Regions from separate parts of the Homo sapiens genome. Here region 1 is reported to be linked to region 2. Evidence: microRNA targets listed by miRTarBase, many of them from high-throughput screens and not tested one by one. Region 2 holds a microRNA gene; the other region holds the end of a gene's coding sequence.
Evidence for each region. The annotated mature microRNA hsa-miR-4704-5p reads GACACUAGGCAUGUGAGUGAUU and lies in region 2 at 2,729-2,750, opposite strand. An mRNA with a match to its seed (bases 2 to 7 or 8) in the 3' UTR can be bound and repressed. Matches are read on the target gene's strand: a 7mer-m8 pairs with bases 2 to 8, a 7mer-A1 pairs with bases 2 to 7 and ends in A, and an 8mer does both.

Region 1: the mRNA of BRWD3 is a reported target of hsa-miR-4704-5p. Seed matches in the 3' UTR shown: 7mer-m8 at 293-299.

What each region holds. Positions count from the first base shown.
Region 1 is chrX:80,672,321-80,677,387 of GRCh38, forward strand. BRWD3 (bromodomain and WD repeat domain containing 3) reads right to left here. Exons shown (of 41, transcript NM_153252.5): 41 at 1-5,043. The coding sequence ends at 4,289. Among named protein-coding and RNA genes, the nearest start is that of BRWD3, 140 kb to the right of the region's middle.
Region 2 is chr13:66,215,932-66,221,008 of GRCh38, reverse strand. It overlaps MIR4704 (microRNA 4704), which reads right to left and starts at 2,759; the gene lies at 2,685-2,759.

The DNA of each region.
Region 1 (5,067 bases), not on the chromosome of region 2:
TATATAGGCCGGGCACGGTGGCTCATGCCTGTAATCCCAGCACTTTGGGAGGCCGAGGTGAGGAAGGAAGGAAGGAGGGAAGGAAGAGAGGGAGGGAGGGAGGGGGGAGGGAGGAATGAAGGAATGAAGGAAGAAGGAAGGAGAAAAGAAAAAAGAAAGAAACCTGAGTGCTACCCATATTCCACAAAATATAGCACCGTGAAAAAACTTAATTTTATATTGCAATTTAATCAAAACTTGGTAAAGAAGCTTTGCTAAAAGATGAGAAACAAAAAAGCATGAAAATACTTTCACACTAGTTTTTGAAATAAGCCATAAAAGTGACTTTAGAATATTCTATTTCTGATAAACCTTTCATAAAGCCTCACGTTCCACAAAAATATTGGGGATGGGGTTAGCATTTAAAACAATGGACTTTACATGTCGAAAGTTCCATCCCTTCCCCTAGAACTATTCATCACAGAACTCAAAATGTTACTGTAATTGTTTAAAAGGCTGGACAGCAAAGTATACTGAAAATTATATATGATGCAAGTCTCCCTTTTATGGATGTGAAAATTCCAACTTGAAGATAAGTACCAGTTGGTAAATGTACATAAAATGATTTCCAACATACATCAGCTGTAAAAGGTGTTTAATTCCCCATTACCACAAACATACAAATTTTTGAAAAATGCTCAAAAAAGTTTTATCAAAAAGTTAGAAGTGGCATTTATATCTTTCTCTCTCAATCACTCTATTATTGTCTGATGACAATCTATGGGATTAAAACAAAAACAACAAAAAGATAAATAACAGAAACGTACTTAAAAGTATTAGAAGGCTGAGTTAAATATCTGAGCGCACAGTTGTGCAGAATGAGATTTCTAATTTTACTCAGTTACTTTGTTACTTTGCATCTGCGGGAAACAAAGTATTATAGAGAAGAATTCCAACACAAGCCTGATTTCTGGGGAGGGAAAAAAAAGAAAAAAAATTAAAAAGGGAAATAAAAAGAATAGAGGGACACAGGTATATGACAAAACCTGGACTGGTTATCTAGAAGGCATAATGAATGATCAAGCAGTAAATATACAGGCTAAGAGCTGTAGAGAGGCAAAAAGTTGGCAGACTGTCCTCCATACAAAATGTTCTCTTTTTTTGAATGTCTGAGATAAGGTGTGTCAAGTTGGGGAAAAAACTTTACACACATACAAGTGCACAAACACACATATACAAAAATTTAGTAAGTAGGCTAGTAGGCTAGTGAATGTTTTAGAGAGCATCCTATTGCTGAAAGAGAAACACACAGTAAGCCATAGAAGAAACACACAATTCAGATTTTATAAATATATACACACACTAAGATCTTAAAGCTGGGAATTTAAACATTATTAGCATTTATGAGAAATATTACAGCTCACTGACTATTCATATCTAGCATAGGATTAGGTTTATACATGTATATGCTCTCACGGGCCTAAATATAACAGTGTTTTTTCTTAGCAATTTAAGATTTAGGCTTTTCTTCAAAATTCTTTGTTCATTTTGTACTTGCTTTGCTATGGCTGGACCCAGATTTTACGTAGGTTTAAAGGGCCTCAAAGAAATTAAAATGATAAAGTAATCAATGTGATACTAATTACAACACATTCACAGGAGGTGGTATTACAAGAAAGCAAAGTGTAAATTGGGGGAAAAAAAAGTCCAGATATAAAAGTAAAAATACTATCTTCCAAACTTTTATTTTCACACTTATTAAAATAATTTGCATGCAAACAGAAAATTATCTGTTTGTTTAATAAATGATAACTATGTTTATCTAACATACCCTGATGACTAACTCTTTAAATCTTAATAACTGAAATAAACATTACAGCAAAATGCTGTTCACTAATATTTTCACAGTATTTCACTACATATAAAATATGCTTTAAAATGTCTTCAGCCTTATTATTCTAATTATCTAATTCTAGAAAATCTTGACATTTGGGAAATAAATGTGGCATTTTTATTTTTCAAAATAAATTATAAATAAAGCTCCAGATAGCCAAAATCACACAAATGTCAATTCTTCTACATTTCAAGAGGTCAGCTCTTCATAGAAGAATGTCAACAAAAAATTTCAAACTAAAATGATACATGTGATCCATATTTGGGTATATCCAGGAATTTAAGTAACTATGTTACTTAGATCAGGATAAGCCAAAGTATTATTGATTTCAGGAATACAGGCACAATTTAGTCTAAATGCCCAAGAGATAAATAACCGAAACAGCACATTTTAGCAAAAATCAAATGTAGTTTCAAATAGGAACGTTTTGAATCTCTACTATGGTTTAAAGTGGCAGCTGAGTTACAACCAGAAGTAGTTTTGGTTTAGTGAAAAAAAGACTACAACAAAAAAATAGCTTGGTCTGCTGTCTAGTAACAGAAGTTAGTGCCATTAACAATTCACAATACTTTCTCTTAAAGCCTGAACATCATTTCCACTGCAAGTGAAAACTGCTTAAAGATGTTAGTCCAAGAATAACCCTACTGCCGACCCTACCAAAAAAGCAAAGTTTTATGTGTGTACGCCTTCCTCTGCACTTAAGGGTTTTCAGATGCATGAAATGATTGAAAGCATGAGACAAACACATTAGCTTAAGAAATATCCTGGGATAGCTAGGTATATACTAAGAAGTCTGTTTTATCCCATGAGCCTGATCTAAGTGCAACAAATTTGCTGTTACAGAAACAGAAATTGCTATTATCCCTCTTACCTCAGAAATGTAAGTATCTAACAAATGAACAAATCTGTAATATTAAATTTGGGGAGTAAAACTGACCTTGGAACTCAAGCTCACTTATGGAACCATGTGCACTCTACTGCTGTAAACAAGACAATAAGGGTTTTTAAAGATGTTTTTTATCTATAAAATAATGATTCACAACATGAGTGTGCAGTGCAATAAGGTTCTTTCCTGAAAGACTAGAACAGAAGAACCCTTTGGAATGATATGAGCAGAATCTATAAGTTGATTCATAATACTAGCTAGCCAAAACATTCCAAATCAAACCAGGTGCTTTGTTAAATTTTAAGATTCAAATGAAAACCAGCAACTCACAGCTGTTAAATGGTAAGTGGAGCAGAAATATATAAGCAGTAGCCCAAGTCTACTTACACAAATATGTTCTAAGAAAGCCTAAGGTGGTAGAGCATACTATATTTATGAAACTTTGTTAATTACAATTATTAATTTGAGAGCCAATACAATTATTAACAACCTCTCAGCTTATAACTTATGGGGTATTCATTCCTACTAAGCTTGTTCTATTTCTCCTTAGTCAGTAAGGAATAACAGCATCTATTTTCCTTAATGTTTCCAGTAGTTGTAGTTAAGAGGTAGCTGAGCTACTGTTCAAAGAAGTTGTTCTTTGTGGATGAGGATTTTTCAAATGTTTAAGTTATTTAAGCTACACAAATTCTATTAATGCAATAAAATGTGATAGGAAAAAAATTGATGCGGGAAACTTTTGCATTTGGCACCTTGTCTAGATTGATACCTCAAGTATTCTTTTTTAATAAAGTTAATGCACACATCAGAACACACCACGAAGATCTGCTACATATTTACAAGGCACCAACCCTTTCTCACCTTTAACGTGAATTATGCAAATCAATGAAAAGCATATCAAGATCCCCCCACCCCCCAAAAAACTGTAGTATAAATATATACTTCAGTTCAGTACAAGTCATGAAAGTTTGGCCTGGGAAGAGTAAAATAATCCAGATCGCTCTTACAATATAGAAACTGTAAACATTTAATAGCTGCCTTTAGGATTGGTGTATTGTGCAAAAGTTATTATTACTGGGTATAGGAATCAAAATGGCAAAAACAAACTATATAAAACTCTGTAAGAAGGTGCTATACTTCTGTGATACAAAAGCAAAAGAGGGCTATTCTATTGAGATAAAAATGTCATGCTACTCTTAAGAAGCTGAATGCTCCTTTAATGTAGTAAATCTGTAGTGTCTGTGTTGTGTTTCGTGTGTGTGTGTCTGTGTGTGTGTATGTGTGTGTATGTGTTTGTGTGTGTGTGGGCAGAATTTCTTTTAATTTAAGGCCTAATGAGTAAGGCTTATTTGAACAAATGAAGTGTGGAGATCAAAAGTCTTGAAACAAATGTATACTGGCATAAATGGAAAAGCACCAATGTGAAAGGAAGCAGAAGTCCCCACACAACTTGCTTTGTAGATTTCCTGGTAAATTCCCTGCAGTAGAAGGCCATTGAATTTTTTAAGTTATTCTAAATTTATTAACTGTTAATAATTCCATCCCATGAGATGGCTAACCCTGGCTTTTTCTGTCATTTTACGCACTCTGCCTGATCTGGATGTACCAAGATTCAGAGGATCCTCAGTGGACACAAAATTGTCATTATCAGAATCATCATTATATAAAACAGTCCTCCTGCCTTGGTTTCTTGTTTTAATTCGAGGCAGTCTACTGAAACGTCCTGAAAACATGGTATCAAATTCATCATCTGCAATACGTGCTCGTTTGGCTCTGGTAGCTCCTCTAGAAGCACCTCTTCCTCCTCTCCCTCTTCCCCTCCCCCTAGTGCCACCTCCACCTCTTCCTCGACTCCCTCGTCCCCTGCCTCCTCTTCCTCTGCCTCCTCTACTCCATCTACCCCATCTTCCCCATCTGCCTCTTCCTCCTGTGCCTCTGGTCTTCCAATTTCTTTTTCCATTGCCATGTTGCTTTCTGAGTTTTCTTTTAGGTCTGGTTTGTATGAATTTGCTATAATCATGGTCTCCATCTACGTAATCTTGATCTGTTCTGGAAGTTGATTCAGAGTCAGAGTCAGAACCACAGGTACTTTCAGAACTTAAACTGGATCCTAACTCTCCACTCTCTGAGGTGGATAAATGAGATTTCTCTTTTGTTTCTTTTTTCTCTTTATCTTCTCCTCCCATGTTTTCATCTTCTTCTGATGCACTAAGTAGTTTTCTCTTGATTCCTGTCCGGGGCTCTCTGCCATCACCATTTGTAAGGGGTCCATCAAGGGAGTGATCTAAATTAAAATGAATGATTTTTA
Region 2 (5,077 bases):
GATATAGGAATGATTGCAAGAGCTCAAGCAACTTCTGTAATCCAGAAGCTAGAAACTGCATACTGAGGATGACAGGGCTGTCCTATGAGCCATATCTGGCTGAAACATACCATCAAAGAGAGATATATGACATTTCAAAGCTTCTATAGTTTTTGGTCTTTTTGTTGTAGCAGCTCAGACTGTACTCTAACAGTACAGTAACATTTTAAAATTCAATTTCCATTTTATGCCTCCATTATTTCCTCATGTTCATTCCTTTTAAAGAGGCTATTCCCATTTGTTCAGCTGAGAAAGCCTTAATTCTTATTCTTTTTTGATGTGATACTTGTCTTGCTTCATCCACTGTGGGCTCTCTTCTATGTTTCGTAAGCACTATGGTCATCCAACTTTCTGTCGTTATTTATGGGCATTTAAAAATCAGCTATAGCCCTTTTAATTTGCACCTTGATGGAAGTAAGGAAATGTAATTCATTTCTATATTTCCATCCTCAGCCCTTAGCACATTGCTTGGCACATGCTATGATTCAAGAACTGTGTTTTGGATGCATGAACACAGAGAAACCTCCAAAAAGGGAATCTAAACCAGAGAAAAGCAGCCTGGGGACCTTGGGTTGGGGAGAGAGGAGCTACCTCACTGCTGGGCTTCCCTAAGGACTGAAGAATAAGGGAGAACACCAGAAACTGAATGCTTGATTGTTATGCATCTGTGCCTCAGGGTGGGTTTTTTTTTCCCTTAATTTTAATTTTAATTTTTTAGTGCCAGCTGGCAGAGGCCACTCTTCCCCTACCAGCTGCCTGCCTGAGGTGCTGGCCAGCTGCCGGCAGCTGTGCTATGGAAAGAGAGCCCACCAGTACCCAAGACAGACCACTGAATATCCCTTCTGTAAGCTTCCTTGATAACTCCCCTTTCTTAACATCTAACCCTGCGAGTTGTTATCCTTTGAACAGACAACTTTCTTCAAGGATTGAAGTGGATGTAGCTCTCTAAAAAAAGGCTTAGTGGATATCAACTTTATTTTCATGACCTTGTTTATATATTCTAGTCACACTACATATTTTTGTTTGTGACTGTCATGTGTGGAAAGGTGTTCCAGGACCTAAATATCATAACAAAAATAGGCATCTCAGTTGAGTGACTGCTTCTTTTCTCATTGCTTTTCCTGGTAAGTGAGATTGTTCAAGAAATTCTTCTCCCTCTTTTTTGGCTTCGGGTTTGTATTCTTGTTCCTATCAGTAGTGACCATAAGTTGTCACCTAATGGAATTAGTTCAGTGACCCTTACAAACTAAATTAACACTCTATCTCCAGTTTCTACTGGATATGTGTCTAAATCACAGTTGGGCACCTTGTTAGCTGCCTCAGTTAAGAGTTCAGTGAAAGAATAAGCCATCCTCCCCTTTCATCCCTAGGGGCTGTCTCTTAGTGTACTAGAGGCTCATTAGCAGCCTTGTAACACTGAGATTGCCCACAGTATACTTATTCTAACAGGTTTTCTTACTTTGAGACATGGTAAATGTCTATTGCAAATCCTGTTGACATTTAATTTTCAAATTATCTTCTGTATTTGTTTGCAATTTACTCATAATATATGCATAATTCCAATCTGTTGAAATATTGATTCTGATTTACGATTTAGTAAATTAAGGAATGGTTGGGTTGCATATTAAACTTTGGAAGTGACTCACAATATATTACATTTATATTACCCTTTAGAGTTGCACAAAGTCCTTCCATAAATACTGTCTATGAGCATAATGGGGAAAAGAATCATGTTTAATTTATCTTTAAATCCTTAGGGATATAACCCAATGCTAGCACATGAAAGACACATAATACAGGGTTTTTAGTGAACAACCAATCAAAGAGGATGATAGATGTGATAGTCTTAAAATCTACCCACAAATTAGTTGATACTTCTTGTATTTGTTTTCTATTGATGCTGTGATAAATGACCACCAAGTAAATGGCTTAAAGCAACACAAATTTAATATCTCACATTTCCTGAATTTAGAAGTCCAAAATGGATCAAAAATCAAATAAGGGCTCCAGCCTTCCAGAGGCTTGAGTTGAGAATCTGTTTCCTTGCCTTTTCCAGCTTCTAGAGGCTGCCTTGCCTGGGCTTGGCCTCACTCTGACCTCAGCTTTTGTCATCTCATCTCCTTCTCTGACTCTGACTCTCCTGCTCTCTCTTATTAGAACCTTTTGTGATTACATTAAGCCTGCCTGGATTATCCAGGATAATCTCTCCATCTCAAGATCCTTAACTTAATCATATCTGCAAAGTTTCCTTTGCCATGTAAAGCATAGCATAGATCTCTGAGATTAGAAAGTGGCATCTTTTGTGGGGGGTGGGAGGCATTATTTAGCCTACCACACTCAAGATGTTAGTCTAACTCCCCTCCTCTTGAATATGGACTGACCTTAGTGAATTGTCTAAGGAATAGAGTACAATTTAGTGACACTACAGGACTTTTCAGGTTAGGTTATTTGAGTCAATACAGTTTCTACCTGGCTCTTTTTGTCTTGGGTTTTGAAACCCTAAGCTACAATATAAGAAGTCTGGTTTCATTGAAGTTACTATGTGTTAGAGAGGCCAGCTGGAGATCACATATACACATGGTGAGATCACACAGAGAGATGATCAAGAGACAAGAGGTGTTCTAGCCCCCAGATGTTTGAGTCTTCTCATTCTAGACACTAGATATGTGACTGATTGAGTGAGGAAGACAATCACTCACATGCCTAGTGTCTAGGATAAGAAGATTCATCCTTAAGATGACTCCAGTCCCAGCCACCAACTGACTACAACCATAGAAAAGACTCGAGAAAGACTGCTGCCCGAGGCTTGGCAGAAAAAAATGTGTGAATGAAATCAATTAAAGGTATTGTTTTAAGCTACTGTTTTAGGGTAATTTACTATGGAGCAAGAGATAATCAGAAAAAATATAAAATATTTTTCCAACTTTAAAGATAAGAAAACAGAAGTTTAAAGATGTCAGCATATAGAAACATTCATGAAGCAAACCCAAATTAGAGAAGAATTAGAGTAACATCGAAAGTACTGAACAGGATCCTGGCCAGATCTCTGAAGTCCAGGTTCTAACGTTTGCTTGTGTGACTTTAAGTATGAGTCTTAATATCTCTGTGTCTCAATCTCCTTATCTGCCTTATCTGTAGAATGATAATAATAATAGTACCTACTTCATAGGTATATTCTGACTATTAAATGGTATAATGTAGATAAACATAAAAGAGTACCTGAAATTATTAATGCCACCAAATTATAAGCTATTTTTTAGTGTTTCATTATCAATTTAGTGCCTTTCTCAGGCTTACCAGTTTCCTTCCAAATAGCACTAAACTCAACTCATGAATGTTCAAGAATATTTTATGAAGATGTCCCAGTTGTCTGGGTTCTACCTCTATTGTCCCATTCAGAAATTTGAAGGGGGGTGGGAAACTTCCCAAATGAATGGCATCTCTGTCTGGAAGCAACTCTAATTCGAATATTTATTGGGCATAATTTGGAGATTCAAAAGCTTATTACTAATGTCCTACACTTTTTCTAAACCAATAGAGAGACTATTTCTTATGGAAAACCCTCTTGTCAGCGAACCAATTCTCAATTACCATTGAACTTTCTCCCACCATCTGCATATCTTCAAATATCTGTTAACTCCTTCCATTTGTCTTCTTACCTTCTACAGTTAAGTTATTTATCTATGATCAAGAAAAAGCATGTAACCAGGTTGCTGGCAGTAAAGGATCTATGGAATCCTATTTCCCCACTGCCCTAAACATTTATCAGCAAACCTCTTACATATCCCCAGTTGGTTTTACCTCCTATCACACTTAGCTCTTATTTCAATAATTGTAGTTTCTTAAAATCCCCAACTGCTCCAGCACTTTTCTTTTCGTCTAATAAATGGTACCAACATCTAAGTCACAGAAAAATATAAAATCCATGTACTCTTACATGGTCTTTTTTTTCCTCACTGAGAAACTCTCGTGTGTCACGTCAGGCAGTCATTGTTGGCAGACACATTCAATATTTAATCCCAGCCAATATCTTCTCAGGCAGTCGTGACAAACTCATGTCTCTCTAGGGATTTTAACTACATTTAAGAGAAGTTTAATTTTCTCCTTGTGGTTTAACCCATCGTTAGAACTCCTCCAAAAAGGGCCGCAGTTACAGAAAGAAAAAAATAGGCATCAGTCCAAGATTTCTTCATTTTTGTTTTTCTTTTGCTTTTCTTCTGAGTTTGCAATCTCATTACCTCTGCACCCATCAACACACACTCTTCACAGTCACAGCTCCACTTTGTTTGGAGCTCAAGACTCTGACCTGTTTCAAAGCAATAACCTATTTGTGCACAGAATGAAAATCATATTAGTGAGGTTGGGTGTTTTTCTTCTTAGGTACTTCTTTCTGTGTTCCAGAGTCTGATAAATCATTTCTTCTGACACTAAACTCTTTAGTGAGAATTTTTTAAATAACCAGTTGACCCTGGATTTTCTCGTGTACTCTCTAACTTGAACCACACATTCTACTATCAAGACAAATCCAAGTTGGTAGCCAACACATCTTCCTGAGAATTTGAGCTAGTTAAGTTAAGAACAAATGAATGTTTTCTTGATTCTTGGTATTAGTAAGAATGGAAACCTGAAGTTGATAAAGTTTTTGATTGAGAAAAGTAGTGTAATGAGGTTTTGCTTTTACCCTATTTCTCCTAAGTGAAGAACGACAAGGCATTGACAGTGAAATTAGTCTCTTCATTTATTGATTTGGCTCTTAAAAAGAAAGAGATTTTAGAGATGTCAAATAGTAAAATCAAAAAGGGATGTGTAAAGAAGTTTTTAGAGAAGCAGAATGGATGCAGATATTCAATGACTGCTTGAGACCTAACGAGAAATATTGGCTGGTTGTGGTGCCATATGCTCATCATCTCAGCCCTTTGAGAGACTGAGCTGGGAGAATTGCTTGAGGCCAGGAGTTCAATCCCAGCAATATAGCAAGACTTGATGGTACATACCTGTAGTTCCAGCTGCTTGGCTGGATGAGGTGGAAGGATCATTT